Linked DNA regions of Homo sapiens: all the other regions are linked to region 1. The links come from fine-mapping of genetic effects on gene expression. A gene starts in region 1. Each other region holds a variant in brackets. All regions are shown on one strand. Distances are from middle to middle.

Region 1 (10,371 bases):
TGCATATTTTTAAGTGTTTGGAAATCACCAGAAATTTAATTCCAATCAAGTGACAAAGGTGTTTTATGTTCCCATTATGTACTAGGATATGATGTTTGGTGCCGATTACACAGGGAAAAACAGGTGGACACCGATCCTATGAAGTACTGTACCAACTCGAAATTCTGTCATCAAGTTCAGGGACTCTGGACCCCCTGTTAAGAATCTATGAATAGGAGATTGGATGAGATGAGTCAGAAATGCAGGTTTGAGGGCATTATCATCCATGGAATGACCGTGGTTATAGGAACTGTGAAAACACATTTCTGTGGGTGGGTGGTGTTTTATTTCTTTCAATCTTTATCTCTGCAGTGCTTTCTCAGCGGTTTGTGGATCTCAGAGCTCTCCCCGGCTGGGTTCCAGTCATCTCATTTACAACCCTTTGGATAAGGGCCTTCAGACTGAAAAAGATTCTGGGAAAAGATATTTTGCCTCCAAAAGTGTTTAGTTGAATGGCAGGCCTCTTATCCTAATTAATGTCAGCATAGAACTTCTGGAATAGCCTCAAAGTATCATTTATTTTAAAAATTATAACCTTTTCATGTTTTCACATTTCAGATTTGTTACTTTACTGGTTATCTCCTTAAAACGTTTTCCCATCTTTAGTCAGTCATACTTAAATATTTTTCTACAGAGGGGCAAGCAGGATTTAGGCACACTGTTCCACTACCGATCAACAAAGTACTCATTGTCCTTATTCAGAAAGCAGTTAAGAACAATGTAAGATCTTTGCTTCTGATTCCTGAATCAGTTAATGCTGCATTAGGTTACAGGTAACAAATAAACCAACTACAATGACATAAAAAGACTTAGTTTTTTCACATAAGAAGCCTCGACAAATACAGGCGAGATCGGGGCAGCTATTAAACCATGAAGGAAATAGACTATCTTTCTGCACCACCATCTTCAGCTGTGAAATTTACCCTCATGCTTGCAAGATGGCTGCTGTTGCTCAAAAAACAATGCCTGCAACCCAGGCAGGAACAACAACAAAAAAAAAGTGAAGGGAAACATTACAGCTGAGCCTGGCTCTGTTAAAAGTCTCTCCAGAAGATCCCCCAGTATTCTCCAGTTAGGGCCTATTGGACAGAATCCTGTCATGTGGCCATCCTGATGGCAGGGGAGGTTGAGTGACTATCTTAACTGGGTACATTGTTACCATAACAAAATTTGAGCTCTATTGGTAATAAATATGGAGAGAATGTCACAATTCCTTAGCCAGAGGACACAGTGTGATGCTGGCCTTGGCTCTGGACCACTTTGTATCTTCTTCAAAGCCCATAACTCCAATAATACTGCCCAAACCAGAAGGAACAGGCTTGGTATTTTGGAAGCATTCACTAAATCACTCATTCATTCTTTTATTTTATTATTATTTTTGAGACAGGGTCTTGATCTATCACCAAGGCTGAAGTACAGTGGCATGATGACACCTCTTTACAGCCTCGACCTCCTGGGCTCAAGTGATCCTCCCATCTCAGCCTCTGGAGTAGCTAAGACTACAGGAGTGCACCACCACACCTGGCTAATTTCTTTTTGTATTTTTTATAGAGATGGGGTTTTGCCACGTTGCCCAGGCTGGTCTCAAACTCCTGAACTCGAGCAATCTGCTTGCCTCAGCCTCCCGAAGTGCTGGGATTACAGGTGGGAACCCCTGCACCTGGCCTCTCATTCTTTAATTTAGCAATTTAATTAACATTTACTGAGCATCTTCTCTATGCCAGTCATAGGGGAAACGATGAACAAAATACACATGATCCCTGATTTCACTGAGTATCCAGTCCCAAATTTTTAAAAAAATGTACAATGGGGCAACATTACCTTAGATTCCATCAAGACAACCAGATTCTGTTTTTAAGCATGAGTATCCTCTTATGGTCAAAAGTTGGTTCTACTTTTACAAATAAAAGTGGTCTTGAGCAACTCCACATCCAGCTGACTAGTGTGGAAGCCAAAATTCAGTGTGTAAAGGGCCAATATTAAGTAATAGAGATCAGGGTATTTAGTTATGTGGAATATTGTTTAGTTCATCAATACTGGCTGGCTTGGCAGGATACAGAGTTACCTAAGAGACAGATCATACAATGCACTTGTTGAGGGCAGGAGGAGCTGTGCATTAGCCACCTTTACATTCCCAAGTCAACTCAGTGACTGACTCATGATAAGTACCTAGCAGAGTAAATATGTTTGCTGACCTGAACTCAAAGTTAGATCTTTCTCTACTAGGATGATCAGAATGACATAGAAATTTAAGGCAGAGGTCCCCAAACCCCGGGCCGTGGACCTGTACTGGTCAGTGGCCTGTTAGGAACTGGGCCACATAGCAGGACGTGGGTAGCTGGTGGGTGAGCATTACTGCCTGAGTTCCGCCTCCTGTCAAATCAGCGGCAGCATTCGCTTCTCATAGGAGTGCAAACCCTATTGTGAACAGTGCATACGAGGGATCTAGATTGCGCACTCCTTATGAGAATCTAACTAGGATTTTCATGGAAAAAAATTGCCTTCCATGAAACCAGTCCCTGGTGCCACAATGGTTGGAGACTGCTGCTTTAAGGTCAAAGTGGACAGCTGGTAATCCCCAATTTTCACATTTTATAGGGCAAATGCATTCTTTATGTGCTGTATGTTAAAGTTTCCAAACCAACATGACAAGGCACACTAACACATTTGTTGTTAAAGATGTTAGATGTTAGAGACGTGCTGAGATCTTTAACCTCTTATCCCCTGGGCAGCACGTCTCATGTCAGTGGGCTACAGAAACTCTACCACTGGCTATATGTGGCATGAGATAAGAAAGGCTTGGTAGCTTCACTCTACGGCATATAATTTTAGGGTCTCAACTGAATATTTACACAAACCTGAACCAACATGTTTTCCTGGGGAATAAATGCTCTTTCAGCCCACCTCTGTGTAGCCTTGTAATAGAATGAAAACAAAAGCCAGGCTTTTATTTATTTGCTTATGTATTTATATTATACTGAATCACACTCCACAAATCCCTTGTGGAATGAGACCAGGTATAAATAAACAAGTATCTAGCTTTTAGATTTTTCTAACAATGCTAACACTGCTGCCAGGCCATCTGAAATATAAAGACTGTCTTTTCCATCAGCAGCACAGAAGACGAGTACTTGAGACTCTCATCATTCCCCCCTTTCATGAACTAAGGGCTATTCAATTCTTATAAAGGACAGGTGAGAGGAGTGGTATCTGAGAAAGACTGACTAGGGGGCTGTTAGATACCCTTTCATCTCAGTTCCCAAAGTTTGATTCTTGTTCTGAATTAGATTAGGGACTAATGCACTCGACTATAACCTTAGCTCCCCATAGAAATATCACCACTGAATCAGGACGCAAGACCATCTTCTTAGCTTTTATGAGGACTTGATTTTTTTTAAAGGCACATAAAAACTGTTTTGAATCTTCTGCTGATGCCCTAATTAGACTGTAAGGTATCTGAGAGCAGGGACTATCTTACTCACCTTGGTAGCTGTAGCACCTAACACAGTGGATGCTGTGAGCACAAAAAACATTACATACATAAATGCTGAATACAATAAAGTGACCAAAGTATACCAATGTGTAGCAAGTTAGAAAGCCTTTTTATTTTTTTGAGACATAGTCTCACTCTGTCACCCAGGCTGGAGTGCAGTGGCATGATCTCGGCTCACCGTAACCTCTGCCTCCTAGCTTCAAGTGATTCTCGTGCCTCAGCCTCCTGAGTAGCCGGGATTGTAGGTGCACGCCACCATGGCCGGCTAATTTTTGTATTTTCAGTAGAGACGGAGTTTCATTATGTTGGCCAGGCTGGTCTTGAACTTCTGACTTGAAGTGATCCACCCTCCTCAGCCTCCCAAAGTGGTGGGATTACAGGCGTGAGTCACTGTGCCCAGCTGTATAAAGCTTTTTTTTCTTTTTAAAGGATTTTCGCAGAAAAATTCTTTTTTTAAAAAAAAAAAAAAAAAAAAGGAAATGCAAACCTGCAAAGCTAGAATTGGGCTTTATGTGAAGAGTTTCACCAAGTGTGAAAACCTTCAAAACAGACTTCAAATATGCAATCTGGACAGGCTTTGTTACCAGGTTTTTAAAAATCAAGTTTGAATAGTTCAAAAACAAGTAAAATTGTTTTAGTGAAGAAATGGCCTTTTAAAACCCAGGTCCTAGCTGGGCAAGGTGGCATGTGCCGGTAGTCCTAGCTACTTGGGAGGCAGGCCGGAGGGTCATTTGAGCCCAGGAGTTGGGAGTCCAGCCTGGACAATACAGTAAGACCCTGTCTCTTAAAAAAGAAAAAATTAAAAGCGAGGTCCTGAAGGTTAATGAAATCAGTATCGGCAATTCATTTAGATGACGGTGCTCAAAATATTCGTCCTGTGGAAAGTCACAACGAAAGGTAAAATTCTCAGGACATCTGTGAGTTAAAACAACAGACCCAGCGTAGGGATTGTGCCAACCTCCCAGTCTCTAGCTGCCCTGCTGGCAGTCCAGGAAGGGTATCTCCTGTCAGTTCCTGAAAGGGAATTCTTCAGCTGCCAAATCAGGCGGGAAAAAGGAAGTATAGAAGGCTCTGTGGAAACTGGCACCAGAGCACAGTTTCAAGGCACCGAGAGTTATATTTGAAAAATCATGTAAAGGTGGCTGCCAAGATTACAGTAGATTTAAAGCAGTATAAGAATCGTTCATGACTAAGACCACTGAAAAATCCTGGACCCAAAACAACTCTAGAGACACAAACACTGTAAACGATACCTAGTATATACTTACTACCGGAAAATCTGCCACACGTGGGATTAGAAATGACAACCTCAACATGGTTTGTTGCTAAATACAGTACCCTCCTGTTCTAACAGCTGACTTTTATAGATACAGAAATGTACTAAGGGTAAAACCATGCCCTTAGAAAGGAAACGCTGTTGCTACCTATACAGAAACAGCCTCTCCTAATAAGAAACACACTGATGACCACCCTATCCCACAACCCCGGTACCCCTTACGGTGCTGAGAACTTTTGGTACTGAGCCAGTTCAGAAAGCAGCACACACGAGAGCCAAATATTTCGGGCACATTCCAACTCTTGTCCACCCCTTAGTTTCCTTTTCAGTAGACTCCCAAGAACCTCCATCCACGGGAGAAACCTGGATTTGGGGGAGGGAATCCCAGGGGGAGGGGAGGGGAGCGGTCCACCCCGGGACACATGCACCCCCTCCAGGGTCCCCTCTGCAGATCGGCCCAGCTGTCCGGGCGCAGAGCCCCCAGCCCCGGCACCCAGCTTCTCCGGGCCCCGGAGCCGCCTGGAAGCCCCCGTCGGCCGCAGGTCGAGAAGGTGCTTCCCAGGCCGGGGAAGGTGCCCGCGCCCTTGCCCGCAGCGCCCCGCCCCGATGCCCGGCTCTGCGCCGCGTCCCAGCGGCGGCGCCGCCGCGCGGTAACCCGGAAGTGGCGGCGGCGGCGGCGGCGGCGGCGGGCGTGCGGGAGCGGGAACGGGAGCGGGGGGCGGCGCGCACGAGCCGGCCATGGACGCCGCCGCCGGCTTTGTGTGCCGCGCGCGGGCCCGGGCCGCCCGCGCCTCGCCTGGGTTCCGGGGCCGCCGCTGACCCGCCCGGGCTCCGAGCGCCGCGCCCGCCGGGCCGGCCCCGCCTCCTGCCCTCCTCCGCCTCCGCCTCCTCCTGCCGCCGGGCGGGCGGGCTGCAGCCGCCCTCCGCGCTCGCCTGCCAGCTCCCTCGCCGCGCGTCCGTCCTCCGTCCTCCCGGGCCAGCCAGCCAGCCAGCCAGCCGGGCCGGCGGCGGGCACCAGGCCGTCCCGATGCCCGAGCCAGGCCCCAGGATGAACGGCTTCTCGCTGGGTGAGCTGTGCTGGCTCTTCTGCTGCCCGCCCTGCCCGAGCCGCATCGCCGCCAAGCTGGCCTTCCTGCCGCCCGAGCCCACCTACACGGTGCTGGCGCCGGAGCAGCGCGGCGCCGGCGCGTCCGCCCCGGCCCCGGCCCAGGCTACCGCCGCCGCCGCCGCGGCCCAGCCGGCACCGCAGCAGCCCGAGGAGGGCGCGGGCGCGGGGCCCGGTGCGTGCAGCCTGCACCTCAGCGAGCGCGCCGACTGGCAGTACTCGCAGCGCGAGCTGGACGCCGTCGAGGTCTTCTTCTCGCGCACGGCCCGGGACAACCGGCTCGGCTGCATGTTCGTGCGCTGCGCGCCCTCCAGCCGCTACACGCTGCTCTTCTCGCACGGCAACGCCGTGGACCTGGGCCAGATGTGCAGCTTCTACATTGGCCTCGGCTCCCGCATCAACTGCAACATCTTCTCCTACGACTACTCGGGATACGGCGTCAGCTCGGGCAAGCCCTCCGAGAAGAACCTCTACGCCGACATCGACGCCGCGTGGCAGGCGCTGCGCACCCGGTGAGCCTGCCGGGGTCGCCAGGCCTGACTTCCAGCTGTGGGGAGGCGGGGTGGGGGTCTCTTGGGGCCCCTGGGGCGGCCTGCCAGGAGAGGGGCCCCTCCTCCGGGGCTGAGGGCCAGCGGAGAGCCCCTTGGCCGCCGTAAATTCGCTTTTCTTGTCCCACCCTGGCTTGCTCCCACCCTCTCCAAAAACCGCGCCAGCCTTCAGGTTCCTGGAGAGCTCGGACTCAGAGAATTTTGCCTGCTTTGGCTCGCCTGTGTGTCGCCGGCCCACCGGCTGGGTCTTTTGTGGCTCCGGTCACCGCGAGTGGCAGAGTGTGGGTGCTTAAGTACCGGGCAGAAAGAAACAACTTGGTTCGAGTTTCGTTTGTACGAGCTGAAGTGACCTTGGGCAAGGCACATGGGTTTCTAGACTCAGTTTCCTTCCCTGTAAAGTCAGTGGGCGAGACAGGATGGCCTCTAAAAGACTTTCTGGTTGTAAAGTGCGGGCAGGACAATGTCTGGGCAACCTTGGAAACAGCTGGAGCGTCAGGTGGAGCGGGGAGTTTGCCTCCTGGTGGGGCAAAGTAGTGGCACTGTGGGGCAGGAAGTTAGCTGGTAGCTGTGGGCCTGGCACCTTCCACACGGCCTCCATAACAGTCCAGGATAAGTTTGAAACTTGCAGGGGCTGGGAAATCTCTGACCTTAAATTAGCATTCACAGAAGGACTGAAAAGTGTTTAGGGTGGGCCATCTGTGAGCCAGGCACAAACTGGGGGCATGGTTTAGGGGTTAGACCTGGTTGTTTTATAACAAGCAAACCAAAAACCTGACTTTTATTCACTATTAGACAAAAGTCTTATACATGTGCAGGTCAGGTTACCTGTTTGTGCTCCAGTTTGGGTATCTGTGACCTTTCCGACCTGCCTCATAGCAGTGATGGTGAAAATAACCTGAGGCCATGTCTATGATGAGATTTGATTTCTTCAGATGAAAGAGTCCCCAGAGGAAGTACACCGGGCATTATTGTCGCCATGGACCCTTCTATAGTTTTTATCTAAAACCTGTTTGCTTATGCACATCACCAACGTTAATGATTTTTTTTTTTCATTCGTACTCACGCATATGTTCCTAAGTGACTCCTTGCCTGTCTGGGAAAATGGCTTGTCCAACAGGGAAGTACTTAATATTTGCTCTATGTTGCATGTTTATGCCCTCCTGAAGTCCTGAAGGGGATGCCCTCATTGGGATTATAGCTTTTCGAAAGTGGCTTAGGCAGATGAGAATGTATCATATGCAGATGCATTGGGTCAGAGTCTGTAAGTAGTTAAAAGCCACCTGTTCCAGTAAAGGGTTTCAAAAGTATGTGTCACACACAGTCTATAGCTTGCTAGAATTTGCTGTTGGCAAAGGTATTAAAAATAAGGTTGGCATTAGATCTTTAAAATTTGAAACATGAAAATCCTACCTTGAGTAGATTTTTTAATTGAAGAGTTTCCATAGAACATTGCTTCTGTGTGTGCATGTCCACATTACAATGAAAGCCTTTCACATGGCTCACCCTTTGCCCCAAATATACAGGTGTGTCTGTGTTACAGCTTACGTGGAGTGTAGTTATTTCCTGGAAACTTTTTTTTTTTTGGTCATATTTAGTTGAATTAAGGGGCGTTGTTTTGGATAATGTTGAATTATCTGATAGTGTATCAGTTGAATTAAGGGTAATTGTTTCGGATAACTTTGAATTATCTGATGGTATGTCTAAAGATTGCCCATGATTTATTTAATGTTATACCAGAACTCATATCTAAGTTAATTTATTCACCTGTAAAAAAGGTTAGAATTTGAAGGCTGCATGCGAAGCTTAGAATTTGAAGGAACCTTATAGATCCTCATGTCTTGTGCTTTTCAAACTGTTTTGACTGTAACCTCACAGTAAGAAACACATTTTACGTTTTGATCAAGCACACATACACGTCTGTATCCACATACCTGAAGCCAATGCTTCACAAAACAGTAATTTTTCTATGGGCAGCACACATAGCAGAATATGTTGTTTTATTTCACTTTTTTTTTTTTTTTTTTTTTGAGACGGAGTCTTGCTCTGTCGCCCAGGCTGGAGTGCAGTGGCGCCATCTTGGCTCACTGTAAGCTCCACCTCCCGGGTTCACGCCATTCTCCTACCTCAGCCTCCCGAGTAGCTGGGACTACAGGCGCCCGCCACCGCGTCCGGCTAATTTTTTGTATTTTTAGTAGAGACGGGGTTTCACCGTGTTAGCCAGGATGGTCTCGACCTCCTGACCTCATAATCCGCCCACCTGGGACTCCCAAAGTGCTGGGATTACAGGCGTGAGCCACCGCGCCTGGCCTATTTCACTTTTATAAAAAAGAAAAAAAAAGATGGTTGTGAATTGCTAAATTTATTTCCCAACTCATGTATGGACACTGCACACGTTCACCCAGCTCATCTGACAGGAGGATAGACTGGCGGCAAATCAGCAGTAGGTCTCTTGACTACCAGTTTAGTACTCTTGCGAGGGCACCATTGCCACGGTAAGCATATTTATCAGATTCTTCAGGAGGTGCATTTGTGTGTCTTGGTTATTCTGCTGACATAAGAGTTACCTAATTCTGAAGCCAATCAGCCCCTCAACCACTTTCCTCTTGCTGTTCAGTATGGTTCTTCTGCTCTTACTTGCCTGGAGCAAGTTCTTATGCTATTCTCTCTTCTTTTACAGCTTAATTCATGTCAGTGCCATGGCAGGAATGCCTTCCATCCCATGTGTCCATTCTTCTGTTACTGGGTCAGACTCTGTTTTCCACCAGCCATCCCCCATGTCTTCTTTGGGAATCTTTATCTTTCCTGCCCTCCTAGTTAACCACACTCCCCAGGACACTGATTGGAGAGCTTGCCTTGTTCTGAGTCATCTTCATCTCTGTACTTAGATTATTCCCCCAGGAGGACTGTAAGGTGCAGTGCCCTGCAGGCCCCAAAGCCCCACACTCAGGACTTTGCCCCACTCTTCTGCTCACATCGTCTTTTGTATCTGCCCTTCTCCTGTGCTAGGAACAATGGATCCTGACTGGATCTTAATTGGATTAGGAGACCCTTTGTGTTCCCTGTGCACCTGGTACTCAGCCCCTTTGCTTGAGTTATCACAGTGTTGCTGTATCTGTTATTTAACTGTATCTCCACTAAATTGGAAGATCTCTGAGGGCAGGGACACTATGTCTTCTCTATTCCTGACAGTTGGCAAAATGTCTTAAAATAATAGGTAGTCATTGGTATTTGTTGAACGAATTGCACATAATGGGCGCCCCATAAATAAGTGGGGTAAAGTTAATTTTTCCTAAGTTGGACTCTTACAAGTACTTGGATCTTATTTTATCTTCGGGGTTTAATATCCATGGGTACAACCATAGACAAAAAAAAAAGGGCCAGATGTATTGGCTTGAGGCCTCATCCACTTTGTATTCATTGTATTGGTGTTCTTGTGACACTGAAATGTCTGTATTGAAGAGAAGAACAATACTAACCCATCCTTTGTATGTCTCTACATCTTTTATCCATTACCTATTTGTGCCAGCTCCTGCGCATGCTAGAGTGAGCTGTCCAGCCCTTGAAACAGATGTAAATACTACCAGTGTGCAGACCCCTCATGCATGGATAAAGACAGTGAATCCCCCCAGATGATGAGTATTAAGGTGGGCACGTAATCCAGAGTAAGGGTTTCAGGAGGAAGTAGATTTGGTAAGAAAGGTGGTTGTTGCCGTTTGGCCAATAGATGATTATTTTAAACTCTTGAAAAGTTACTGAAAAGAGTGTAGCGGAGAGGCAGGGTTTGAAGGAGCCAGGAAGAGTGGCATGAACAATGAGGAGAGCTCATTGAGCATGATGGAGAGCCCCAAGATCAAAACTTGTTTTACGTTTGCATTACTGGTAAGAAATATAAGTATGTTGTGAATACAAA
Region 2 (10,371 bases), 48 kb before region 1:
GGGTGCTTCCACCAATACCACCAACAATGAATGGATGTGCCGGCTTCCTGAAATGTGTGTACTGATTAGTGCTGCTATTATTATTATTATTATTATTATTATTATTATTATTATTATTTTAAATGTTTATTCATTTGTTAAACATAGAATTGTTATATTTTCTGTATTTCCTTGATAAGTAGAAGGGTTGAACATGTATCAGTTCTTTTGTTTGCTAATTATAGCTCCTCTTGTTGGAATGATCTGTTTGGGTTCTTTAGTTTCCCTGGACCTGCTACGGTGTACATAGGGTGAGTAACAGCCCTGGTTTGCTCAGGACTGAGGTGGGTTCCCTGGGCATAGGGCTTTCAGGGAGCCCTCCTGAAAACCCAGGATAAGTTGGTCACCCTATTTTTATATAATAGGCACAGCAATTGTGCAGTTAGTTCTTGATGAATTCCATTCCACGCTCCCAAATAAGCCTTCCTTTCTTCTTCATCTGTAATAGTCATAAGAGTCATTATAAGAAATACATGAAATAGGCCAGGCGCGGTGGCTCACGCCTGTAATCCTAGCACTTTGGGAGGCCGAGGCAGGCGGATCATGAGGTCAGGAAATCGAGACCAACATGGCTAACACAGTGAAACCCCGTCTCTACTAAAAATACAAAAAAATTAGCAGGGCATGATGGCGGGCGCCTGTAGTCCCAGCTGCTCGGGAGGCTGAGGCAGGAGAATGGCGTGAACCCGGGAGGCGGAGCTTGCAGTCAGCCGAAATCTCTCCACTGCACTCCAGCACTCCAGCCTGGGCAACAGAGCGAGACTCCGTCTCAAAAAAAAAAAAAAAAAAAAAAAAAGAAGGAAATGAAATAACATAGTTCAGGCACTTAGAACAGTGCTTGGAACATAGTACTTAATAAATTTAGAGGAAGAGGGTATAGCATATTGATTAAGATTTTGTCACGTAGAATCACACTGCCTGCATTCAGATCCTGCCTGCTTGGTTTCCTCCTCTGCAAAACTGAGATAATAATTACCTGTGTCATACTTCTTATGAAGATTAAATGAGCTAATTTAAGCAAAATACGTGGAATAGGGTCAGGCAAATTGTAAGCCCCCGGATGTTAGCTTCTCTTTATGGTAGTAGAAATGGCAGTCATATGTACCAGTAACTGCCATTATTGATCATCTACTACATCAGGCACTGCTAAGGTGACCAGCTGTCCCAGTTTGTCTGGATTAGTATGGGTTTAGCACTGATGGCCTCATATCCCAGGAATCTTTCCATTCCAGGCAAATTGGGATAGCTGGGCATCCAGGTACTGTGAGAATTTTATTTTATTTTATTTTTAATTTTTATTTTTTGAGATGTAGTTTCACTCTTGTTGCCAGTCTGGAGTTCAATGGTGCGATCTCAGCTCACTGCAACCTCTGCCTCCTGGGTTCCAGTAATTCTCCTGCTTCAGCCTCCCGAGTAGCTGGGACTACAGGCATGTGCCACCATGGCTGGTTAATTTTTATATTTTTAGTAGTGATGGGATTTCACCATGTTGGCCAGGCTGGTCTTGAAGCCCTGGCCTCAAGTGATCTGCCCACTTCAGCCTCCCAAACTGCTGAGATTCCAGGCATAAGCCACCGCTCCTGGCCAGGTACTGTAAGAATTTTAAATGATCTCATCTTGTCACCCAACATCCCTTCACTTTTACACATACAGAAACAGGGACTCCAAGCAGTTAAGAAGTTTGCCCAGGTGACACAGGTGGTGAGGACCAGAGCCGGCTGGCCCCAGAAGCAGAAGTTGCCTCACTTCATGAGCAGCATCTTCACTGGGAAGGGGCTGGATACTGCCCGGAGGCTGACTCATGGTCACCAGAGATCATCTTTTTCTTTTTAATTGTGGTGAAATATGCATAACGTTAAATTGACCACTTTATTTTGAAGTGTCTATTTCAGTGGCATGAAGTACATTCGCAATGTTGTGCAACCATCACCACCATTTCCTGACATTATCCTTTTACAATTTTTTAATTTGGTCATGTGCTGACTCTTTCTACATTTATACCACCCTCACCGTGTGCGCAGGAAACAGAGGGTTTTCACTCCCAGGAAAGCCCTGTGAGCCACCAGTCATCCTGATGTAAGCCGAACATCATCTGCTTGCAGTTACACAAGTGCCAGTAATACTGAGTCTGTGGCTATGGCCACATATGCCTCACCTCTCCCATCTCCTCTTCCTCCTCTAAGTGTGTCCACTGAGGTACCACAAAGGACTCAGCAAGCTGAGATCAGGAATGAAGGGATCAGCATTGTTTCATGGAAAGTATTTGAAAGAGTGATGAGTCTGCACTGCATCTGGGCAGATGCTTTTGTTCAGGGAGGTGATGCCTCCGGCCTCTCTGTCCAGGAGACCATAAGACCCAGCACTGGGAAATCCTCCATCACGCTGTGACTAAAACCAAACCTGAAGCATGTGAGTTTAGCCCAGTTAAGATGCTCCTGAGAACACGGCCCATCAGTCCCTGCACATTAAGGCTGCTCAGGGACCGGCAGGCAGCCTCCGGGTTCCCGTGAGGGTGCAAGGCTCCGAGAGAGCTGCACCAGCAGTGGGGTTGGGCCAGGAGTGAGGGCTGTCTTCCTTCCCCCGAGTTTCTACCACCCACCCTTTCTTTGAACTCTCTTCAGATCTTTATCCCATTCATCTTTTGCCTTCTATAGACCATGGACTCCTGGAGGGCAGGAACACCATCTCACTGCCGCCTGTGCTTGAGCGTGCAGGCGCTCAATCACCTGCATTGCCTCAGAGAAGAGCAGGTGTCTTAGGGGTTTGGTCCTGTGCTAACTATGGCAAAGGACTAAGAATATGAAAATAATAATACTAAGCACTTTCTCTCTTTTCTTTTCTTTTTTTAAGACAGGGTCTCATAAAAGACAGGTCTTTTGGGCTGGAGTGCAGTACACAACCATGGCTCACTGCAGGCTTCAACTCCTGGGCTCGAGCAATCCTCCCGCCTCAGCCTCCCAAGTGCATCACCAAGCCTGGCTAATTTTTTATTTTTTTATAGAGAGGGTGGTCTCACTACATTGCCAAGGCTGGTCTTGAACTCCTGAGCACAAGCGATCCTTCTGCCTCAGCCTCCCAAAGTGCTGGGATTACAGGCGTGAGGAACCACTTCCTGCCTAAATACTTTCTGTGTGCCAAACTCTGTGCCAATGCTTTCCATCAAGTGTCCTCACCACGACCCTATGAGGAGGTTCATGCCCTTTTTTAACCATAGAAAAACTGGAGTGAGTTCAGAGGAGTGTGACAAGGGACATGAGTGGCCTTTGGGGTGAGCTTACTGGGTGATAAGAGAGGCCTCCCGAGGGCAGGATGCCCACTCAGGCAGGCTCTGAAAGGGAAAGGCTACAAGAACTGCAGGGGCCTGCGGAGGAGAATGTGCAATAAACAGAGGCCTATAGAAAATAATTATTCTTGCAAGGGCTGTGGGGGATGAGGCGCAGAACTCAAGGCGCTCAAATTCGATTCAGAACAGAGGCTGGGAGACCAGGCATGGTGGCTCATGCCTATAATCCCAGCACTTTGAGAGGCCAAGGTGGGTGGTTCATTTGAGGCCAGGAGTTCGAGACCAGCCTGACCAACATGGTGAAACCCCATCTCTACGAAAAATACTAAAATTAGCTGGGCCTGGTGGTGCGTGCCTGTAATCCCAGCTACTCGGGAGGCTGAGGCAGGAGAATCGCTTGAACCTTGGAGGCGGAGGTTGCAGTGAGCCCACATTGCACCACTGTACTCTAGCCTGGGTGACAGAGTGGAAAAAAAAACCCAAAGAACACAAGTTGGCAAGGTGGCAGCCTCTGGAGAAGGCATTGGTTGGGAGGTGAGCTGCACCCCCAAGATGTTGTTCTGCTCTATAATTCTGGGCTGGGCTGAGGATGTGGTCAGAAAGCACCATCACCCAGAGGGAGCTCAGAGGATGAGCAAAGAAAGAACAGCTTCCCGAAGAACATTTCCTCTGTTTACTCACTATAGCTTAAGCAGAAGGTGTCTGCTGTGGTGGCTTTGCCTGGAGTAATTTGTAATTGACACAGTTTTCACGACCTTCTCTGGGTTTCCTCTCATTTATTTTTTTTTTCGGTTAACAGAATAGTGATGAGTAATTTTATCTGACTTCACTGTGACATCAACTGGCACATCTCCTAAAGTAGCCTTTTGTCTACTGACTGCCCTTCAGGGGGATATATTTATATTTATGTCTCATTTATTCTCCTCCTCTGTGGATTGTGGTTTTCTGGGAGAGAAGTAAACTCCACTTTAGGGGAACATGGAAAATCCAATTGTTTAATAGATGATAAATCGCATTTCCTTTCTCTTTTTTCAAAAGATGAGCTGTTAAGAATCACATGTTAGGAACGGTTGTCATGCTAGAAATACATGGCTCCCAATGTTTACACCTTATGAGTTTCTGGGGTATTGGCTGCCATTTTTACCCATTTTTTATTTTATTTATGTTAATACTCTGTGCCATTTGGTCCACTACACCTGAACATGAATTTATGTCCATCTGCATTCATTGATCACTCGGCTCTTTACAAACAGGGCCCTGTTCATGCAGTCGCTTTCCATCCTCATGCATTCTGCTTCAGAGGTACTGGATCACTTACCACTGTCCAGGTGCTCTGGGCTGTCTCCCCTACTATGTCTTTGCCATGCCATCACCATTGCAAAAAAGAAGAAGAAGAAAAAAGCCTTCCCACTTATTATCTGCCTTGATCATGCCTATAAATCTATTTGGTACCAGTTCAGCCCTGCACCTTTCTCCTGGAGACCTTCACAAGCCTCTCGTCTAGTTATAGCACCCTCCATTCCCCTCTGTCACATGCTATCATGATGGTGCTTGTGTGGGATCTCCTTGAAGGCAAAGACCTGACTTTGTATCTTATTCATTCTTATATCCAGGGCCATTGCATTGCATAGTGTGTGGCATGACATAATTTCTCAATAAATCCATATTAAGTAAAAACAAAACAAATATCTCTGTAGGAAAGGATTCAATTCACTATGCCACGTTCTCCATGAAGACTTCTTTGATCCTTCCAACCTGGAAGACATTTCTACCTGTGGGCTCCTGCTCACTCCACCTGTGCCTCCCTTTGAACCTGATACCTTTCTGATTTTCCATTCTACCAGCAAACCGCCAGGAACGCAGGAGGCGCTAAGTGGTCACCAAATGAAAGTTAGTTGAAAACGGAACTGAATTTGCTCACAGTCACACCGAGATAATCATTCTGGAATACTCTTGCATCCATGCAGTTTTTCCCTCACATTGTGAAAACAACATTCCTAGGAATCCAGAGAAGAACTTCAATCCTGAAACAGAATATTCTGTGTGAGTAGTATCTCCATCTTTCCCTGACTGTAGAGGTACATGGAATTTATTGTTGTCGTTGTTGTCTTGAGGTTCTCAGAATTTTAAAGGTCTACAGTTGGGCTTTAAGGAACTTGAAAGGTCACCTAGCCCTTTAAAGCCACTTTATCGGCCAGCCTCGGCCTCCCGAGGTGCCGGGATTGCACACAGAATCTCGCTCACTCAGTGCTCAATGTTGCCCAGGCTGGAGTGCAGTGGCGTGATCTCGGCTCGCTACAACCTCCACCTCCCAGCCGCCTGCCTTGGCCTCCCAAAGTGCCGAGATTGCAGCCTCTACCCGGCCGCCACCCCGTCTAAGAAGTGAGGAGCATCTCTGCCCGGCCGCCCATCATCTGGGATGTGAGGAGCCCCTCCTCCCGGCCGCCCAGTCTGGGAAGTGAGGAGCACCTCTTCCAGGCCGTCATCCCGTCTAGGAAGTGAGGAGCGTCTCTGCCCGGCCGCCCATCGTCTGGGATGTGGGGAGCGCCTCTGCCCCGCCGCCACCCCGTCTGGGAGGTGAGGAGTGTCTCTGACCGGCCGCCCCGTCTGGGAAGTGAGGAGCCCCTCCGCCCGGCAGCTGCCCTGTCTGGGAGGGGAGGAACATCTCCGCCCGGCAGCCACCCCATCCAGGAGGTGGGGGGCAGCCCCCGCCCGGCCAGCCGCCCCATCCTGGAGGTGGGTGGCAGACTCCGCCCGGCCAGGCGCCC[A/C]GTCCGGGAGGTGAGGGGCGCCTCTGCCGGGCCGCCCCGTCTGGGAAGTGAGGAGCCCCTCTGCCCGGCCGCCACCCCGTCTGGGAGGTGTACCCAACAGCTCATTAAGAGCGGGCCATGATGACGATGGCGGTTTTGTCGAATAGAAAGGGGGGAAGTGTGGGGAAAAGAAAGAGAGATCGGATTGTTACTGTGTCTGTGTGGAAAGAAGTAGGCATAGGAGACTCCATTTTGTTCTGTACTAAGAAAAATTCTTCTGCCTTGGGATGCTGTTAATCTATAACCTTACCCCCAACCCCGTGCTCTCTGAAACATGTGCTGTGTCCACTCAGGGTTAAATGGATTAAGGGCGGTGCAAGATGTGCTTTGTTAAACAGATGCTTGAAGGCAGCATGCTCGTTAAGGGTCATCACCACTCCCTAATCTCAAGTACCCAGGGACACAAACACTGCGGAAGGCGGCAGGGCCCTCTGCCTAGGAAAGCCAGAGACCTTTGTTCACATGTTTATCTGCTTACCTTCCCTCCACTATTGTCCTATGACCCTGCCAAATCCCCCTCTACGAGAAACACCCAAGAATGATCAATAAATACTAAAAAAAAAAAAAACAAAAAACAAAAAACAACAACAACAACAAAAAACTCCACTTAACAAAACACAATCTGATTAGTTTCTGAATAAAGTAAATAAAACCTGTAAAAAAAAAAAAGCCACTTTATCTTCAGGGTTTAGAAACCGTTGTCTAGAAAGACAGATCATTCATCAAGGTAAGTCAATGGCCAATAGAGTGGGTCCCATCTATACTACCTCTCTCTGTATAGATATAGTGAGGGCTGATCAAGCTATGATACAGAGTAGGGCTTGATTGCTGAGCATGATATGCAGGAAACAAGTAACTTAATAAACCCGCCTGACTGAGTCTAGAAGGGGAGCATTATTCTCCCTCTTATTGATGAGCTGCAAAGCTCACAACCCTCAGAGAGTCTAAACCAGCCCAGGATACTGGGTCAGTACTCTGAAGAGAGGAACCAGAAGCCCCGAAAAATACTTGGCCTGACTGTGGCCTTGGTCTCTTCCTGATATTCTCCCTCATCATGTCTAGGTCTGACTTAGGGAAGAATCCTCAAGTGCTGAGGGAATAGTGAGAATTTAGAAAGGCCATTCAGAACATATGTACTGAGTTCAGCAAGCCACTATCATAGTCACCAGGTCAGGGGTCCATGAGAGTAGTGAACTTACACTACTTGCCCACAATACTTGGCACAAAGCCTGGCACCTAGCAAAGACTGCCCAATCCACATTTGTTGGGTTGAAATCGAGTCAAGTATGCACACTTCACCAATGTGTTTGTCAAAACTGGAGCGATGCAGAGAAGATGGCAAGGTCCCAGTGCTAGGATACATGCAAATCCATAAAGGGATATAAACACACACAGGAATGCTGGGCACAGTGGCTCACGCCTGTAATCCCAGCACTTTGGGAAGCCAAGGCAGACGGATCACTTGAGGTCAGGAGTTGGGGACCAGCCTGGCCAATATGGTGAAACCCCCCGATCTCTACTAAAAATACAAAAATTAGCTGGGCATGTTTGTGCACACCTGTAATTCTAGCTACTCAGGAGGCTGAGGCAGGAGAATCACTTGAACCCAGGAGGTGGAGGCTGCAGTGAGCCGAGATCATGCCACCACACTCCAGCCTAGGCAAGAGAATGAGACTCCATCTCAAAAAAAAAAAAAAAAAAAAAAAAAAAAACACACACACACACACACAGGAAAATAGTATCAAAACCCCAAAAGGAAGAATATTGACCAATCTCAGAGGAGTGACTGCCACAGGGACCAGCACTGGGTGGGGTTCAAAGGAAACTTGATATGTGTCTATTATGTACTATGTTTTATTTCTTCTCTTTTCTTCTTTTCTTTCTTTTTTTTTTTTTTTTTTTTTTTTTGAGACAGGATATCGCTCTGTCACCCAGGCTGGAGGGCAGTGGCGCCATCATGGCTCACTGCAGCTTTGACCTCCCGGGCTCAAGCAATTCTCCCACCTCAGCCTCCTGTCTAGCTGCTGGAATTACTGGCAGGCACAACCACACCCCACAAATTTTTTTTTATTTTTTTGTAGAGATGAGGTCTCACTATGTTGCCTAGGCTGGTCTCAAAGTCCTAGGCTCAAGTGATCCTCCCACCTCTGCCTCCCAGTGTTTTATTTCTTAACCAAAAAAAGAAAATAAAGGAGGAACTGAAACAAATATGATAAAATGTATTTATTAATTGTAGGCAATGGATACATTGGTGTTATATTAACTTCTGTAATTTTCTGAAGGTTTGAGTTTTTAAAAATAATATTGCAGCAGTATGCTACAAAAATCATTATTTTTGTTTCTGTTTTGGCTCCAGCGTGGAGGATTCCCAAGACTACTCTCAAGTTCAATGATTTGGTAGAAACTTGTAGAACTCAGAAAAGCTGTGATACTTACAGGCTCAGTTTATTAGAGTGAAAGAATACAGATGAAAATGGCAAAGGAGGCCAGGCTCAGTGGCTCATGCCTGTAATCCCAGCACTTTGGGAGGCCAAGACGGGCAGATCATGAGGTCAGGAGTTCAAGACCAGCCTGGCCAACATGGTGAAACCCCATCTCTACTAAAATACAAAAGAATTAGCCAGGCATGCTGGCGGGCACCTGTGATCCCAGCTACTCAGGAGGCTGAGGCAGGAGAATCGCTTGCACCTGGGAGGCAGAGGTTGTAGTGAGCTGAGATCGTGCCATTGCACTCCAGCCTGGGTGACAGGGTGAGACTCTGTCTCAAAAAAAAAAAAAAAAAAAAAAAAAGAGAGAAAGAAAAAAAAGAGAGAGAGAAAGAAAGGAAAGAAGGAAAAGGCAAAGGAAAACGGTGCCTTAGGCAGAGTCCAGGACAGACCGGGTATGAGCTTCCCACTGTCCTCTCCTAGAGGAGTTGTACAGAGAGTACTTAATTCTCCCAGGGACAACGTGTGGTGGTGGTACACACAAAGTACGGCCAACCACAGAAGCTCATCAGAGTTTTGGTGTCCAGGGTTTTGTTATTCAGTCTCTGGCCTCCCCTGAGGTCAAACACAGTGCGGTCTAAGACCTGCATCATAAATCACATTACTAACATTAGGTCATCTGATGTCGTCCAAGACTTCAGGTATACAAAAGCTGGTCCTTTCTTTGGAACATGCAGGGGTTGAACATCATAAGCCTGTGAGTTAACCCTTTGTTACACAGTCCCCAAACAAGCCAAAGTGAGATGCAAGACCTCTGCCTGGATTTGCAAAAGATTTTGTGACCCTCAGCCAACCACCTACCTCAAGCCTACGGAACATTTGGAGAGATGGCATTGGTTGGAGAGCCTCCAGTTTTCTTAAGCTCCTCACCTCAAGCCTAAGAATATGGGCTCCAATCAGACCACTGGAAATCACAGCATGTGTCTCCTGAACTTTCAGAAACAAACAGACTGGTGACTGATTTGCACCTGAGATATCTAGTTCAGGAAAGAGTGTCTTGTTGCTCTGGGAACAGACTTTGGGATTTGACTGCCCTCCCAGATTTTGATGAGACAAAGAATAGGTGCGTATTTCTAGTGGAGGGAGGAAGAACAAACCAGTTCAGGACCTTCTTGGAAGCTGTGGGGCTGGACCACAAGATTCTCAGGGGCTAAGGAAGGCGCTGTAAGCAGCCAGCCAGAGGAAAAGGTATCAGCCCCAAAACAGGAAGTGGAGGAGTTTTCGAAGAACCTTTTAAAGTCCCATGGGAGAGAAAGAGTTAACTTTCAACACTGCCAAGTCCAGGAAACACAAGCCAACTCACTATAGTAGTCAACTTTAAAAGTTCCTGGCCCTGCACCATGGTGCACACCTGTAGTCCCAGCTACTCGGGAGGCTGAAGTGGGAGGATGTCTTGACGTCAGGAGATTGAGACTGTAGTGAGCTACAATTGTACCACTGCACTCCAGCCTGGGCACAGAGCAAGACCCTGCCTAAAAAAGAAAGAAAGAAATTTCTGTCCACTTTCTCCTCCACATTCTGCCCTGTTCTAACTTTGGAGAGTCAGAAACTGGTTAGTAGGGTGCATGAGAAGAACTAGGTGAAGAAAAAGAAAGAATTTTCTTTTGACTACAGGCCTACATAGGTCAAAGCTAGGGAAGTAAAAACATTCAACTTTGAATGAAGTGCAAAATTCTAATTATTAATGAGACTGGAGATTTTAATTAATAGACTGGTACTATTTGGGAAACAGAGTGACAAGAGAAACTTTTTCACT
Region 3 (10,371 bases), 60 kb after region 1:
TGTGGGAGCAAATATGACACACACTGTCCAGAGATTTTATCCTCCCAGGCCTGACTCACTTGTGAAAATCTCCCAGATGATGTATAAGGACCTTGAGTATACTGACGCCTAGGGTTAATTGATTGAGCTCTAATATACAGGATTTTTAACAGCACCCATACATCCTAAAGGAACTTACAGTTCAGCACTCGCTCATTCATTCAGAGACACTTCTTGTTAAATCTTGAGCTGTATACAATATGTGTGATGGGGCAACTAGTGGTGTAGACACTCAAAAACTTCAAGCAAGCACAGTTTGGAAATTTCTCTTACTTTTTCAGTTGGACAGTACAGGTAAGGGAAAAGGTACCATGCTCAGTTAATCTTTGTAAATAGAAGAATAAAGGCAAAGTGAGTTACTCGACAAGCCAGGCTTTGATCTTCGGTAAATAGCCACAGGAATGGTATAAATGAACAAACTCACCTGCCACCCCCTATTCTGCTCTACCACTTTGACCGGAAGATCTCACCCCTGCAGAGGTGCCTGCATGAGGAAAGTATTTTTAATACAAAATATTTTGCCCCTTATGCTTTTCCCACAGTCCTTGCTGGAGGGGCCTAGGATTGTTACCCCAGGACTGGCCCAGCTCATGTTGCCATTTTATAAAAAAACCTCAGCAGAAAGAAGACACGGTTTTAGGGTTTTTGATTGACCCATTAATTGCTTTCATCCTGCTATTGCTGGAAAAAAAATAAAAGATCATCGTTTGGTTACATAAACATCTATTATACAGACTGTCTTATTTCACAGAAAGGAACCTTCTGTTAACACCTTGGGTGAACTTCAGTTTTGTGCAGTTTGTACCAGGATTCAATGAGATTCGGCTTCATGGGAAAGTTGCACTGCAGATTTATAGTGGCGTGGCTGGGAATGCTAAGTAGGGCTAATGTGCCTCTCAAATGTGGCCTTATTTGTGCTGAATTGGTAATGAGAGGCCAGTTTGCTGAAAGACGGATACTTAGCATGTTTGTGGGAAGCAATGCGGGGAGTTACCCTGGCAACAAAACTAATAGTTTTTTTTTTTTCCTGGCTCTTAAATTAGCATATACCTTAAAATACAGCCATCTCAACAAATTGCAAATGATTAACAACAAATTAGCAACTAATCTTATCTGAGTTTATCTGGTATGGCAGGTATCGGGCTATGCATTTCATGTTCATGGTCCCCCTTCATCTTTACAAGAGTCTTATGAAGTTTGTCAGCTGGGCGTGATTGCTCACGCCTGTAATCCCAGTACTTTGGGAGGCCAAGGAGGGTGGATTGCCAGAATTCAGGAGTTCAAAACCAGCCTGGGTAACATGGTGAAACCCCGTCTCTACTAAAAATACAAAAAAAAAAAATAATTAGACGAGCGTGGTGGTGCACACCTGTAATCCCAGCTACTGGGGAGGCTGAGGCATAAGAATTGCTTGAACCCAGGAGGCGGAGGTTGCAGTGAGCCGAGATCGCACCACTTCACTCCAGCCTAGGTGACAGAGCAAGATTCTGTCTCCAAAGGAAAAAAAAAAGATGTTTGTTCAATTACTGTGCTCATTTTACAGATGAGGAAATGAGAGGTTAAGTAATTTATTGAATTAAGGTCGGTAATTAGAGGACAGGCACAGTGGCTTACACCTGTAATGCCAGCACTTTTTGAGGCCAAGGCTGGAGTATCACTTGAGGCCAGGAGTACAAGACCAACCTGGGCAACACCACAGCAAGATCCTGTCACTACAGAAAAAGATTAACAAGTTAGCCAGCCATAGTGGTACACATCTGTAGTCCCAGCTCCTCAGGAGGCTGGGGTGGGAAGATTCCTTAAGCCCAGCTTTATCTCTTTGAGGTGGCAGTGAGCTAGGATTACACTATTGCACTCCAGCTTGGGCAACAGAGCAAGACCCTGTCTCTTAAAAAAATTTTTTAAAAGGCTGGTGATTGGAGACAACAAAGGAGACAAATCCTCATATTTAATGCCATAAATTATTAATATGATAGATTTCAAACCATTAATGGTTGCATTGACTTTCATCATGAATTTGAATTTGGTAAACATTTTCTTAATATGTCCGTTGTTGCCAGATGGCAGAATCATCTGTGTCCCTCTCCTTAAAGGAGGATACTTGCACATTTCCTTTTAATATTAAAACAAATTTAAACAAAAGGAAAAGGAATCCAGATTATTATTTCATTTATAGTTTATTTTCTTTTACCTCCTTTACACTTGGGATCGGATGATGGAAGTCAACTTTAAATACACCCTCCAGGCAGTAGAGATTCTCCTAAACTGTGCAGCGTGGAGCATAGTCCCAGGCCCATTGTAACTGTTGAGTAAATATCTTTTTAATTGTGTATAATTGAACTCTCTTAAAGGAAGTCACTTTAAAATTAAATATAGGGGGAAAGCAGGTTTCCAAATAAGATTTCTAAAGTGCATAATTGAATACTGCCACAGTGGCTCTGATGTTTGCAAATTACATGGCTGATGAGGTTTTGCAATCTTTCTGGGATGTCTTGAAGTGGTCCGCGGCTTCCTGAGTTTTTAATAAAGGCTAGATGACAGTTGTTTGTAGATCTTTGGAATGTGTAATTGATGTTAGAGCTCTTTATTATCTCCACGACCTCATTCCTGTTATTTAATAATCTCTCTGAGCTTCAGTTTCCTCCTTGATAAAACAGAGGTGGTCATTCCTCTCTCACTGTGTTTCATTAAATATTAAAAGAGATTTTGTGGGTTAAGTGCAAAGCACCCGGCTATGGTAAATGTTTAAAAAATGTTAGCTGTTACTTTTAACAAAAAGATTCCCACAAATAGTACTAATTGGTATCCTTTTGTAACTTCGACTAGGATCAAATATGGAAAGAGAAGTAAACTACAAGAGGCTCTTTGGCAGGACAGAATGGAGAGAGAGCCATTTCTCTTGATTTATTTGTGGATGAAATGACTGTTATCCCGATCAGAGAAGTCGCCTACACACCCAGCTCAACCAATGCTTAAAGTCTTTTGGATTCCTCTTTTGGATATGCTTTCAGAGCCTGAAGCATATTGTTTTAAAGATCCTCAAATATTCATCCTTTGAGAGTAGATTTGATTTTTGCAGAGAAGTCATTTGGAATAAAATCTAGGCATTACATTAAGTTTTCAAGCTAAATAGTACAGTTTTTATTTTTTAAAACAAGGCACTTGCTTTTATGAAATGGGGTGTGTATCTTTGAGTCAATTCTGATGGTAGCTTTCAGAATTCTGAAGACTTGAGTGGCAGCAAATTAAGTGTCCAGCTTTCCAAATAGACATTCATTTGATATGTTAAGTTCTGGCCCTTTTTAAAATTCTCTTGAAAAATAATATATAAATATAAAAAAATCTAAAAGTAATATAAAGATAATATATAAAAAATAGTAGTTGCTAGTTTGCTAGTCTGATGCTCTGAAGAGGTCTGTCTTTAATAAAATACTTCAACAAACACAACAGCCAATTGCAGTGTGGTATTCTTGTTTGGATCCTGGAACAGGAAAAGGACATTAGTGGAAAAACTAGTGAAATCCAAATAAAGTCTGGAGTTTAGTTCATAGTAATGCACCAACGTTGGTGTTTTAGTTTTGACAGATGTATCACGGTAATGTACAATGTTAACCTTACAGGAAATGGGTCAGGAGTATGTCAGGGCACTGTATTATCTTTTTGTTTTGTTTTCTTTTCTTTTCTTTTTTTTCTTGAGACAGAGTCTCACTCTGTTGCCCAGGCTGGAGTGCAGTGGCACGATCTCAGCTCACTGCAACCTCCCACTCCTAGTTCAAGCAATTCTCCTGCCTCGGTCTTCCGAGTAGCTGAGATTACAGGCATGCACCACCATGCCTGGCTGATTTTTGTATACACTGTATTATCTTTACACCTTTCCTGCAAATTCAAAATTATTCTAAAATGCAAAGTTGATTTAAG[A/G]AAAAAAACTAAATTACCAGAAAAAAATAAAGCAAGAAAAAGCCAAACTGTTATGATATGTTAATGTAGGTTCATCAAAGGTACTGCTGTGGTAGGGGATATTGATAATTGGGGAGACTGTGCATGTGTGGGGACAAGGAGGTATCTGGGAAATCTCTGTACCTTCCTCTCAGTTATGCTGTGAACCTAAAACTGCTTTAAAAGATAAAGTCCTTAATTTAAAAACAAAACAAAACAAACAAAAAAAACCCACGGTGTTATTTCCCTGCCTGTGGAGATTATTAACTTATCATTAAATGTGATGTGTATTATCTGTGAGCATAACTAATGGAGTCCTCTTTCTGCCTCCCCCCTTTCTGTTTTGCAGCATTGACAAGATATCTAAAGTCACCTCTCCTGTGTTGGTCATTCATGGTACAGAGGATGAGGTCATCGATTTCTCCCATGGCCTAGCGATGTACGAGCGCTGTCCCCGAGCCGTGGAGCCCCTTTGGGTTGAAGGGGCTGGGCATAATGACATAGAGCTTTATGCACAATACCTAGAAAGACTAAAACAGTTCATATCTCACGAACTTCCTAATTCCTGAAGACAACAACTTGATCTTACCTCATTTACTGTGAACAGAAGAGTCCTCTGTTTTGCACATGCTTTAACTGGGTAGCTGTAAAGGCTTGATAACCATGAAGAAGTGCCCAACCTTTAGGGTGTTCTAATCAAAGAGCTGATGAAATCTCAGTCTTTTGTATCTAGAGGTGGTTCTGCTAATTCACACAACACGTTAAACTGAACAGTCGTGATTCCCAGCTTCATTACCTTGCAGGAATGGGAATGAGAGCTGAATGTAGGGACAATTTTCTAGTGCTGTATAAAGTAGCCTCGCATCTGTTTCTCAACCTTATCCATCATTTCTGACATTCATGCAGGACTTGCCCTGTTGCCACCAATGTTCTCGGTATTTCACATGCAGCTCTCTTTCTGCCACTGGATACATGGGTTCAATCCATTTGTGAAGCTGTGATAGTGTAACTGGAAAGCTAGTGTGGTGAAAATTCCTTTATTATTTTTTGTTAACATGCTGATCTTTCCCGGACAAATGAACTGAAGGGTAATTTACTGGAACTCTCGTGTACAGCTTCATCAACTGTAACCATATAAATATAACTGGAATATTCTTAAACAAAAAGAAACTAGGGGTTTTTTTAAGTGTAAATTTATTACTAGCCAACAGAGTTTTACTATTTTGATTGTCTGGTTGGTTTAACAAAGAGCCTAGCTGACTTTCCTTCTGTAAAGTCCTCCTTGTAGGCTTTTTTAAAGTACTGTACATATTTGCAATCACATTGTGCATAGATTCTTAATGGTAGATATGATTTCTTTTGTCAGGCTACAACAATGAACTGCAGATTCCTTGTTTGTAATGTAAATGATTGAATACATTTTGTTAATATGTTTTTATTCCTATGTTTTGCTATTAAAAATTTTATAACATTTCCAAGACAAAAATTCCAAGTTTATGCTTTGAAGAATTTATGTAATTAAAATTTCACTAAACTAATCTTTTTAGTTTAGGAATTATTTGGGTTTTGACACTGGAAGTTGCGCCAAATAAGCATCAGAAATAGGAGATGCTTAACATTGCTATACTACTTGTGTTGGTTAGGGGTTTGGATTTGGGGGTTCTTTGGTTTTAATTTTTTTTTCCACATTTAAAAGCCTTAAATGTACTGTAAGCCTCAGATCGTTGTACAACTGGACTGCGGTTGATTGCCAGTTTGTGTACTGTTGCTTGGATGCGGCACAGTGGTTGGTAATGGAATAAAGGATGCATGGATCAGAATGTGTGGGCTTGTGCAGTTTTTTTCTTCATCTCTCCATCAAAGAAAATAGTGAATAAGAAAACAACTTTTTGTCGTAATGTAGGAAGAAAACCTTGAGGCTTTCAAACTGCACCATCTTTCTCAAGGTATATGGTTTTGTTCTATAAAAGGCCTTGGATTACTTTTGGAAGAAGCCAAGATATAAAGCATATAGCAGTAAAGTGCAGATGATATCTAAATAGAGGATGCAGTGGATTCTGGCTATGAAACAAAATTGATGAAGGTGACCTCATTGTGACCTGGCTCAGAGGAAGGACAGTGCCTCTTTTGTTGGGAAGCCTGAAACAGGTGTGTTCCATAGTTTTCAGCCCTTTGACCAGCTGAGCAGAAAAGAGCAGCTGAGGGATGCTAGTTTTCAACTCTTGGAACGCACTCTCCTAAGGGTGCATTAGGAGGAAGTGGTGGTCAGGAAGGTGTGAAGACATGAGTATGCACATGTGAATGCATGCATATGCCAGCTACTTCCTGATCTTGAATCAGGTGGGTGGGGCTGGCTTACCCGAGGGGGCATCAGCAAAGCTCCAGTGGTGATGCCTGTCCCAAAAGTCTGGGAGACCTAGGTAGGAAAAAGCACAAGCAATGACCTGCCTTTGGGGCCAGAGACCAGCGGGTCAGGGTTGCCAGAGACCTGATTTCTGATTCTATTTGTGTGCTGCTTGCATCTTCTGTAATCCTTACCCCCCTTTTTTCTCCTAAACTATTTAGTAAATTTCTTTTCATCAGCCAAATATCGGGAAATGATAAGATTGACAATAACAGAAACTAAGGTGGCAAAGCCTTTTGCTTCATTGGTTTTGTCACTTGATGTGGATGGTTTGTATCCACTGGAAGCAGCTCGTGCTTTGCCAAAACTGAGGAGGGAAGTTTCTCCAACTTTTGCCAGGGTTTGGCATGGGAACGGCATTCCTCTGAGAATTGCATGTGTGGTAACAGTGGGAACCCCAGGGAGAAATCCTCTATTGGTTTCTGAGAGACACCCCTCCTGAGCTGCAGGCTTTTTCTAGAGCTGTTCTCCATTCAGACCTGGGGCCGGATTCCAGGTGTTTGGTTTCCACTAAGTGAGGATGCGTCTCCTTTCTGAGTGCCTTACTATTTCTTTCTCCCTAGTCAAGAAGGAAAAATTAAGTGGCTACCTGAAGTCCTTGCAAAGTATAGAGAAGGTATATGTATTGTTTCTAATATATGAATTCGTGCCTTACGCTTGTGGAAATCCGTTTATAACTATTAAAAGCCTAGAAGTAACATTCAGAGCAAGATATTGTGACCGTATTATTATTCATTCTGTTGATGATTATTATGCTTTATGATCCCTAAAATTAAGCAGAGTAATACAGATTTGGATCACTCATTATAATCGCATGAGAATCTCAAATCCTAATTTAAATGATTGTAGCATCCTTTGAAAACAAGAATGGAATGATTGCTACTGTCTCAAAATAGAATGAGTCTATAGTTTAAAAAACAAAAAAAAAACCTGTTAGCACTCTTGTTCAAGACTGAATTTTGAATGTGAAAATCAAAGGTTTGAAAGGGCAAATGAATTGTCAAAATACTCTTTTTGGGAACATTTCTGTGACTCTTGGTGTGTGGAGGAGAAATATAGAATCTATAGACTTCGGGGCCTTGATCACTTCAGGAAATGATCACAAGTGTATTAGCCTGCACAGAACAAGAAGGATCCCTTCTTAATGTGAGGGATCACCTTGGGTTCCAGTTGAAAACTGAATGCCCCCTCTCTCAGTGCTCCCCTTTCTATAGGTACCTGCTACTGCCCTATCTTAGAACTAGGACTTGAAAGTGCAAACACATGAAGAGGGTCTGTCTGTTCTAGTCTTTTTCAGGTGAGCCTTTTCAGAGGGAGGATTAGGACCATATCTAATCTGTCTTTGTATCCAAGCTGAGTGATTTTGACCTCGTTCCCTAATTTCTCTGGGCCTCTGATGCTTTTTTTACCCCTTGTTGACCACACGTAGGGCACATAGTCATTAAATGAAATCATGGCTATGCAAATACTGTCCATTTTTTGCTTTATTTTCGACACAGAGTCTCACTCTGTTGCCCAGGCTGGAATGCAGTGATGTGATTATGGCTCACTGCAGCCTCAACCTCCCAATCCTCCCATCTCAGCCTCCCAAATTAGCCACCGTGCCTGGCTAATTTTTATGTTTTCTTGTAGAGGCAGGGTTTCGCCATGTTGCCCAGGCTGGTCTCAAACTCCTGGCCTCAAGCGATCCTCCTACCTCGGCCTCAAAGTGCTGGGATTACAGGTGTGAGCCTCCACGCCCGGCATTTTGTGCTTTGTAAAGCACTGTAAATTGTATTACTGGCAGCAGAGCTACTTAAGATGAAGCTCTCAAAAGAGAATAAAATGATAACATTTGAAGAACTAGGGGAAAGCAAGCACCAGATTATCTTCCAAAAAGTATACTAGGCCCAGGCAGTTATAAGAATAAATTCCTTCAAACTATTAAGAAATAATTCCATAGTATATTAACAGTTCTAAAGGTGCGTGCATGCGCACATCCATTCATACTCAAGAGACTAAAGTGGAGCTCACATACAGAGGCAAAAGTGCTAAACAAAATACTGCAAAATCAATCCTCTATCAAAAGAACAAACAGCATGATCAAATTCGAGTTATACAAACACAGCATTAGGAGATAATGTTACTTTCTGTTTGCTAGTAGTAACTAGTTAGGAAATATCATGGCCAAAAGACCTCACTTACAATAGTACCTCACTTAGAATAGTAACACAGAAAACATACTCAGTGCAATAATGAACCTAGAAGATCTCGTGACTTCTGTTTTCTGCTTTGTGATGGTCCTGGGATGTGAACCACCCCTTCCACTGAAAACAGTTACTGAATGAAATGGTAAAAATCTAAACAGATGCATGAACTGTCAAGAAAATAAGACCTGTGTGCAGGCCAAATGCAAAATAAAGATAAGAACTGACAGGAAGGAGAAGCACTGAAACTAGTTTTCTCTTTGAAGGAATTTGCTGGACTCGTTTAATCTGAACACTGGTTTTCCAGTCTGGTGAATCTCAGAGCAGTGAACAAAACCTAGAGCGCCCTCCAAGGCAGGAGATCTACTTGGAAACTATCTTCTTTTAGGGCAAATTCGTAGGATCATTTCAATAGACACAGAGAAAACATTTTCTGGAACTCAATGTCCCATTTAAGTTAAAAAAACCAAAACACTTATTAAACAAGGAATAGGGGGAAACTTTTATATAGAGAGATTATCCCAAAACATAATAAGCATTATACCAAGAGGCAAAACATCAGAAGCCTTATGCTACTTTAGATTGGAAATTAAAGATAATATCCACTACCCTCACTCTCTTCAAAGTTACACGAAAAATTCTAGCAAGTTCAGTAGGGTCAAAAAGGTAAAAAGATATAAGACATGGAAAAGAAGAGGCAGTGAATATGCTCTAAATCCAAACTATTGTGATGGTTGCACAACTCACTAAACTTGTCAAAAATCATTCAAATGTACATATAAAATGGATAGATTTTATATGTAAAGTATACCTTAATAAAAATTATAAAAATAAATGAAAAAAACTATTCAGGTTATGATTGTCTATGTAGAAAACCTGAAAGTATCTATAAATTATTAGATTTAATAAGAGTTTAGGTTGCTAGACACAAAATCAATATACAAAAATCTACCTTATTTCCATAAATCAGGAAAAATATTTAATAAGCCATAGAAAAGAAAAATGCCACTTACAATAGTATTAAAAAACATTAAATACCTGAGACTAACACACCATGCACAAGACACATTCAGGAGAAAAAGTTATTTTTGAAAGACATTAAAGAAGACCTAAATTAGAGATATACCATGTTTATGGATAAGAGGTCTCACTACTTAAATATATCAGTGCTTCCAAAATAGATCTGTGGGGTTAATATGATTCAATCAACATCCCAACAGGTTTGTTTCTGGATTCTGACTCTAGAAATGTGTGATTCTGAAATTTGTATGGAAGAACAAAGGGCCAAAAATAGCCAGAATAATTGAAGATGAAAAAGGTGGAGTATATACCTTACCAGAATAAAGAATTCCACGTGAGAAATTTCAAGATTCAAAAGCCTCCATCCTTCCAATTCTGTAGTGTAGAAAGCCTTGCCTGACACCCGACTCTAGGTTAATGCCCCTCCCAAGAGCTGTCTTCATATTCTGTACTCCCCTGCACATCGCAGTTATCATTAATATACTTAATAATTATTATATTATTAATATAAATAGTTTCTTTGTGGTTCATATAATTCCAGAAGTTATAGCCATGTATTAAGACAAGAAAAATTTAGCTGGGCATGATGGCACATGCCTATAATCCCAGCTACTTGGGAGGATGGCTTGAACCTGGGAGGTTGCAGTGAGCCAAAATTGCACCACTGCACTCCAGCCTGGGTGACAGAGGCTGACCCTGTCTCAAAAAATAAATAAAGTAAAATCAAATGGTTTAAAAAAAGAAAAAAAGAATGAGATATGTATATCTCATGCAGTAACACCCAAG

Alleles and levels. Alleles are on the strand shown, and positions count from the first base shown. SD is a standard deviation of normalised expression in the study named. Not every link is listed here.
In carriers of allele A in region 2, the expression in monocytes after Pam3CSK4 of the gene that starts at base 5,716 in region 1 tends to be lower than with C alone (moderate effect, 0.51 SD a copy in Quach 2016).

The links. PIP is the estimated chance that this variant, and not a neighbour inherited with it, causes the effect. A credible set is the group of variants that fine-mapping cannot tell apart.
Region 2: its variant is the best candidate, but not a certain one, in a credible set for the expression of ABHD17C in monocytes after Pam3CSK4 (Quach 2016, PIP 0.65).
Region 3: its variant is the best candidate, but not a certain one, in a credible set for the expression of ABHD17C in whole blood (TOPMed, PIP 0.53).

What each region holds. Positions count from the first base shown.
Region 1 is chr15:80,689,595-80,699,965 of GRCh38, forward strand. It overlaps ABHD17C (abhydrolase domain containing 17C, depalmitoylase), which reads left to right and starts at 5,716. Exons shown (of 3, transcript NM_021214.2): 1 at 5,716-6,425. The coding sequence starts at 5,836. RefSeq lists silencers at 4,434-4,728, 5,190-5,349, 5,370-5,479, 5,500-5,919, 6,010-6,059 and 1 more and an enhancer at 6,250-6,319.
Region 2 is chr15:80,641,684-80,652,054 of GRCh38, forward strand. No RefSeq gene overlaps it. Among named protein-coding and RNA genes, the nearest start is that of ABHD17C, 48 kb to the right of the region's middle. The variant A/C (reference allele first, on the strand shown) is at 6,091.
Region 3 is chr15:80,749,827-80,760,197 of GRCh38, forward strand. ABHD17C (abhydrolase domain containing 17C, depalmitoylase) reads left to right here. Exons shown (of 3, transcript NM_021214.2): 3 at 4,325-5,795. The coding sequence ends at 4,544. Among named protein-coding and RNA genes, the nearest start is that of CEMIP, 24 kb to the right of the region's middle. RefSeq lists an enhancer at 1-429. The variant A/G (reference allele first, on the strand shown) is at 3,958.